2 linked regions of the Homo sapiens genome follow. The protein of the gene in region 2 purifies or fractionates together with the protein of the main gene of each other region. This does not show direct contact. Each region holds a gene or a part of one and is shown on either strand. Other genes may lie near its edges.

Region 1 (3,500 bases), on a different chromosome or scaffold from region 2:
TATTTCAGTTATATATATATGTGTGTGTGTGTGTGTGTGTGTGTGTGTGTGTATTATATATGTACGTGTTTGTTTACTGGGTCTTGATGTGAAATATGTTTTTGAGATTGAAAAGTTTTGCAAGCCACTGTGGTAAGTTATATTGGCAAATAAAAGAACAAATAAACACCAAACTCCTTTTTACTAGATATTTCCATTAACTTCCTTTGGTTATAAACAACAGAGAATGACTCCAGCTAAACTAAGCAGATGAGGAAATTATTAGAAGGAAATAGAGCAGTTCACAGAATTTAAGGGAAAGCTTAGAAAGCCCTAACCAAGGATGTTCTGGGGCCTGGGTAAGTGGAACGATGGAGGCTTACTACTATTGGTGAATTGGTTCCAGCTGTTTTAGGTCTCTGCACCATTATGCTCAAGATTCCAGGGAGAGAGTACCATTGTCCCTTGGCCCCCAGTTGTCCAGAGCAGGACAGGGTTCCTTGACTGATAGGCCCCCCCCAGATTACAGTGATGGAAGGAGATTCTCCAAAGACCCAAGTGTTGTTATCAGTGGAGGGGAATGGAAGCTGCGTGGCAAAAGAACAGATGTCTATGACATTAGACTTTACCATGGATGATCTCTGATTTCATTTCCCTCCTTCCCTCTCTTCCTTCTTTCCATCCTTCTTTAAATCACTTTTTTTTTTTTTTTTGAGACAGGGTCTCACTCTGTTGCCCAGGCTGGAGTGCAGTGGTGTGATCATAGCTCACTGCAGCCTTGAACTCCTGGACTCAAGGGATCCTTTCACCTCAGCCTCCCAAGTAGCTGGGACCACAGGCATACTCAACATGTTTAGCTAATTTTTCATTTTTCGTAGATATGGGTTCTCACTATGTTGCCCAGGCTAGTCTTGAACTCCTGGTTTAAAGTAATCTTCCTGCCTCGGCCTCTCAAAGTGCTGGGATTACAGGTGTGCACCACTGCACCTGGCCTTAAATCACCTTTTTTTTGGGCGGTGGGAGGGGGAGGATGGAGTCTCACTCTGTCACCCAGGCTGGGGTGCGGTGGCACAATCTTGGCTCACTGCAACCTCCATCTCCCTGGTTCAAGCAATTCTCCTGCCTCAGCCTCCCGAGTAGCTGGGATTACAGGCATGGGCCACCATGCCCAGCTAATTTTTGTACTTTTACTAGAGATGGGGTTTCATCATGTTGGCCAGGCTGGTCTCAAACTCCTGACCTCAAATGATCTGCCCGCTTCGGCCTTCCAAAGTACTGGGATTACAGGCGTGAGCCACCGTGCCTGGCCTCTTAAATCACTTTTTATCAAAGGAGTTTCACTCTTGTTGCCCAGGCTGGAGTGCAACGACGTGATCTCGGACATTTAAAATCACATATGTGCATGATTTTAAAGTATCAAAGTATCAATAATATCAAAAGGCTTTTAAAAGAAAATAGCAGTCCCCTGCTCCAAGTTCTGCTCCATGGAAGTAACCACTTTCTACTCTTTGAGCTGTTTTGTGTTTACCTCCATGTTTCTAAATAATATGCTTACAGTGATTTTAATTGATTTATCAGTTTTAGACATCTATTGACTTCTGTTGTAGGAATTATAGGAAAATCTATACTCCCACCCCTGACATGCTTCCTTCCCATCCTCCCAGTGTAATTGTATTACAATTTTTGGTAATGTAATAAACTAGTTTCTGTTAATAGCATTGTGGTCAAGAGCATGGCTCTGGGCTGAGTGCAGTGGCTCACGTCTGTAATCCCAGCACTTTGGGAGGCTGAGGCAGGTGGATCACCTGAGATCAGGAGTTCGAGACCAGCCTGACCAACATGGCAAAACCCCATCTCTACTAAAAATACAAAATTAGCCAGGTGTGGTGGTGCGCACCTATAATCCCAGCTACTTGGGAGACTGAGGCAGGAGAATCATATGTACCCAGGAGGTGGCGGTTGCAGTGAGCCGAGATCACGCCATTGCACTCCAGCCTGGGCAACAAGAGTGAAACTCCGTCTCAAACAAACAAAAAAAAGAGCATGGCTCTGGGAATCTGACTAAGGTGGGCTCTAATCAGGCTTTGATGTCTGCTTTGCCCAAGCTCACTTAGGCAAATTACTTAATTTCTTCATTCTTAGTTTTCTCACTTGTAAAACTGGGATAATAATTGCACCCTTCTCATAAGGTAGTTGTGAGGATTAAATTAGATAATACACATAAAATATGAAGCACAGTGCCTGGCATGTGGTAAGTACTCAGAGGTTAGCTATTATTTTCTATTTCTACTGGCTTAGACTAGACTGTTTTAACCTCCTATAAGCAACCAGCCAAGGGATGGAGGAAGAGTCTGGGAACTCTCTGGTTTGGGCAAGGTTTGCTCCTCCTCATTATGCTGACTTTTGTTTATTCCTGTTTCTTTCTCGTTTCCTTGATGATCCAGGTCCCTCAACCAGTGGAGAGTCCCAGGGGTGAGAGGAAGGCCTACAGATAGACCCAGGGTGAAGACCTGAGTAACCTTTGCTAGTCCTGACTCAGCCAGTACTGGTCTTAGACTGGTGATGGGTCAGGGTTCATATTTTGGCATCTCTCTCTGGGCATCTTTCCTCTTCTTTTTTAGACCTCATGACCAAGGCAGCTGGTGTCCCCTGCTGCTCTGGTTTCTTTAAGTAATATATCAGTTTTATCTTTCTTTCGAATATTTGCATTTTTTTCTTTTTTTTTTTTTTCTACAGCATCTTTTTATTGTCTTTACCATTACTTTAATGCATTTTAAAATTTATCTACATTAATTGGGAACTATTTGCATTTTTTTCATCCTCTCTCTCTTTTTCTTTTTCTTTTTTTGGATTTGTCTTGGCCAGAGAGGTTCTCCAACACCCGGGTGGACTTGGAATTTTTTTATCAGCTGCAATCTGAAGACTTGTCTTTACTGTGGAATAGGTGACATTCCTTTAGGACCTCAGAAGCTCAAGTAGTTTAATGCCAAGTCTTTCCAGAGCCTCACTCTCTTTTATTTTTTAAATTAGAATTGTGATTTATTGAAGCCTTACCATGAGCTTCATATAATTTTTTATGAACAGCTTTATTGAGATATAATTCATATACCCCATTTAAAGTATGTAACTCAGTGGTTTTTAGTACATTCACAGAGTTGTGCAATCATCAATAAATCAATTTTAGAACATTTCCTTACCTTATAAAGAAATCCTGACCCATTAGCAGTCACTCCCCATTTCCCCCCAATCTCTCTCAGCCCTAGGCAGCCACCAGTCTACTTTTTTTCTCTATGGATTTACCTATTGTGGATATTTAATATAAATGTAATCATCGGTATGTGATCCTTTGTGACTGGCATCTTTTATTAGAATGATGTTTTCAAGGTTCATCCATGTTGTAATGTGAATCAGTACTTCATTCCTTTTTATGGCTGAATAATATTCCATTATTTAGATGTATTACAACTGTGTTCGTCATGGATAAATGTTGGTGGACATTTGGGTTCTTTCTACTTTTTGGC
Region 2 (3,500 bases):
CTTCTGGCCTCAAGTAACCCACCCGCCTTGGACCCTCAAAGTGCTGGGATTACAGGTGTGAGCCACCATGCCTGGCCTAGAGTGAGCACTTAGATGTCTACTACCCAAACCTTACAATTAACTTTTTACTATACTTGTTTAATCACATATCTATGTATATATTTGCTTTTAAGTTCAAGAAATAACTAAGAGTATTAAAAAACAGAAGAGTACATTCTGTAATTCTTGATACTTGATTTGGAATCTGACTACAGCTCAAACATCACTGTGTTATAAAGGATCAAGTAAAAGACTGGAAGCTTAGCACACTGGTTCATGATTCTAGCCTTCCTCAACTTTGCCAGGCTGAGCTTATATGCATTTGAAATGTCTTCATCTGTAAAATAAAATAACGTACATCTTTAAAGGGGTTCAATATCAACATATACAACTTAGCTACTTAACAAGGAATCACACCCAACAAAAAAATCCCAGAGAGAAGTAGCGAGAATCTAGGTCTCTTACCTTGCATAATCAACGGGAGTTTTCCCACTAGAATCCTGTGTGCCTGGGTCTGCTCCATATACTGCCAATAATTCAGCCTGTAAAATCTGCCCTGCTTTGGAGGCAACATGGAGTGGGGTGTTTCCTTTTTCCTAAGAATCATTAATAAAAAGTAGGCAAAAGAGCACATTAAATAAAGGCTACATGAACACAACTCACTTAGTTTCAATATCTGAAGCAATTCATGTTTTCTTACAGGATGAAAGAAGTTGGCTTGTGCTCCTAAAGATAACAGTCTCAAACAGGTTTCAAGATTCCCTGTTCTCACGCTCGAATGGAGTTGCTGAAAAACGCAGAAACAAAAAAGGAATCGTGGTTAGAGGTGTAAAGAATGATGTCCTAGGGCAGCTGATAGACCATTTTAATATATGTTACATCAGTAACGCATAATCTTTATTTGTCTCGGTAAAGTGCATGGACCAGTCTCTCCTTTGCCAGTCACAACTGTCCCTGGGCTGTAAGGTGGAGTGAGGCCACTTTACTGATAAGGAAACTAGGGCTGTGAAGGCTGACTTGCCCAAATGCATGACTTATCTAAGAAGTGGCACAACCAGAACCTGAGTGAGAGGCAGGACTGTGTGAAGAGGTGACTATGCGTGGCTCTGACATACGACAGACCTGAATTTCAAACTATACCCACTTCAAGCTGTGTGGCCTGGAGAAAGGGCTTTAAGCAATCTGAACCTCACTTTCCTCATCTCAAAAATGTCAACAATGGCCAGATGCAGTGGCTCATGCCTGTAATCCCAGCACTTTGGGGGGCTGAGGTTGGAGGATCACTTGAGCCCAGGGGTTTGAGACCAGCCTGGGCCACATAGCAAGACTCTGGCTCTACAAAAAATACAAAAATTAGTTGGGTGTGGTGGCATGCGCACCTGTAGTCCCAGCTACTAAGGAGGCTGAGGTGGGAAGATCACCTGAGCCTGGGCAGTGGAGGCTGCAGTGAGCTGTGATCATGCCACTGCACTCCAGCCTTGGTGACAGAGCGAGACCCTGTCTCAAAAAAAATAAAAAATAAAAAAAATTTTAAAAGGTGGCATTTTTCTTTTTAGAAAGGGTCTCGCTTGCTCTGTCATCCAGGCTGGAGTGCAGTGGAGTGATCATGGCTCACTGCAGCCTCAGTATCCTGGGCTCAAGCAATCCTTCCACCTCAGCCTCCCAAACAGCTGGGACTACAGGCGCCGGCCACCATGCCCTGCTAACTTTTTATTTTTCAATACAGATGAGGTCTCACTATGTTGCCCAGGCTGATCTCGAACTTACGAGCTGAAGTGATCCTCCCACCTCGGCCTCCCAAAGTGTTGGGATTACAGGCATGAGCTACCGTGCCTGGCCCTATTCACAGGGTTATTATAAGGATTTAGTGATATAATAAAGTGCTCAAAGAATACAAATGCTATAATAACAGTTATTATTATTAGTTGTTACTGTAATTAGGGCTTTAGGACTTCAAATTCTACACTGTGTAAGCTACAGGATCCTGCCTTATACAATACCCTCTCTACCACATTATTCTTGGCCTGTATAATATGCTTTAATAAAGTCTTTCAGGGTAGGAAAAGGCCCGTGATATACCGAATTCTGTACTACTGCAGAAAAGCTCTTATACAGTCAGAAGATGAGCTGCCTTCCTTCAAATCTAACCTAGAATTGTCCAAGATGCAGTAACCCTTATCACAGGAATGAAGAAATCTACTCTAACATCTAAGTTTAATTTTTTAAATAGTTTTTTTGTTTTTTAAACACAGGGTCTCGTTATGTTGCCCAGGCAGGACTGAACTCCTTGGCTCAAGCAACCCTTCCACCTCAGCCTCCCAAGTAGCTAGTATTACAGGGATGTGCCACTGTGCCTAATTTTTTAAAACTCTGGCAAGGAAAAAAAAACAAAAAACAAAAAACCCAACACATACCAAGTCTTATTAATCAATGGAAGTAGCTAGTATATGCATTTCTATGCAAAATTTCAAATTCTGAATTCTTCAGCCAGATTCTGCTGGGGATTAAAAAAGGGGGGGGAAAAAAGGCCAGATGTGGTGGCTCACGCCTGTAATCCCAGCACTTTGGGAGGCCAAGGCAGGCAGACTGCTTAAGCCCAAGAATTTGAGACCAGTATGGACAACATGGTGAAACCCCATCTCTCCAAAAAGTCAAAAACTGGCCAGGCGCGGTGGCTCATGCCTGTAATCCCAGTACTTTGGGAGGCCGAGGCAGGCAGATCACTTGAGGTCAGGAGTTCAAGACCAGCCTGGCCAACATGGTGAAACCCTGTCTCTACTAAAAATACAAAAAAAATTAGCCGGGCATGGTGGTGGGCACCTGTAATCCAAGCTACTCAGGAGGCTGAGGCGGGTGAATCGCTTAAACCCAGGAGGTGGAAGTTGCAGTGAGCCGAGATCGTGCCACTGCACTCCAGCCTGGGTAACAGAGACTCTATCTAAAAAAAACAAAAACAAAACACACACACACACACACTAGCCAGGCTTGGTGGCACATGCCTGAGATCTCAGCCACTTGAGAGGCTGAGGTGGGAGAATCATTTGAGACTAGGGAGGTTGAGGGTGCAGTCAGCCATGATTGTGCCACGACACTCCAGCCTGGGCAACAGAGTGAGACTCTGTCGTTTAGGCTGGAGTGCCGTGGCATGATCTCAGCTCACTGCAACCTTCGTCTCCCCAGTTCAAGAGATTCACAGCTGAATTCTACCAGACATACAAAGAAGAACATCCTACTAAAATTATTCCAAACAATCAAAGAGGAGAGACTCCTCCTTAACTCATTCTGTGAAGCCAACATCAGCCTGATACCAAAATCTGGCAAAGACACAACAAAAAAGGAAAACTTCAGGCCAAAATCCATGATGAACACAGATTTTTTAAAAAACTCTTAACAAAATATTAGCAAACCAAATCCAGTAGCACATCAAAAGTTAATCCACCATGGCTGGGCGCAGTGGCTCA

Evidence for each region.
Region 1: the proteins of GIT2 (region 2) and TUFT1 purify together in Homo sapiens (affinity purification with mass spectrometry, with the first as the bait; one large-scale study listed by BioGRID). This does not show direct contact.

What each region holds. Positions count from the first base shown.
Region 1 is NC_000001.11:151,543,309-151,546,808, forward strand, and holds part of TUFT1 (tuftelin), read left to right. Parts: intron 1-2,487; exon of another isoform or gene 2,488-2,583; intron 2,584-3,500. UniProt on the Homo sapiens protein: Involved in the structural organization of the epidermis. Involved in the mineralization and structural organization of enamel.
Region 2 is NC_000012.12:109,982,869-109,986,368, forward strand, and holds part of GIT2 (ARF GTPase-activating protein GIT2), read right to left. Parts: intron 827-3,500; coding exon 740-826; intron 636-739; coding exon 505-635; intron 1-504. UniProt on the Homo sapiens protein: GTPase-activating protein for ADP ribosylation factor family members, including ARF1.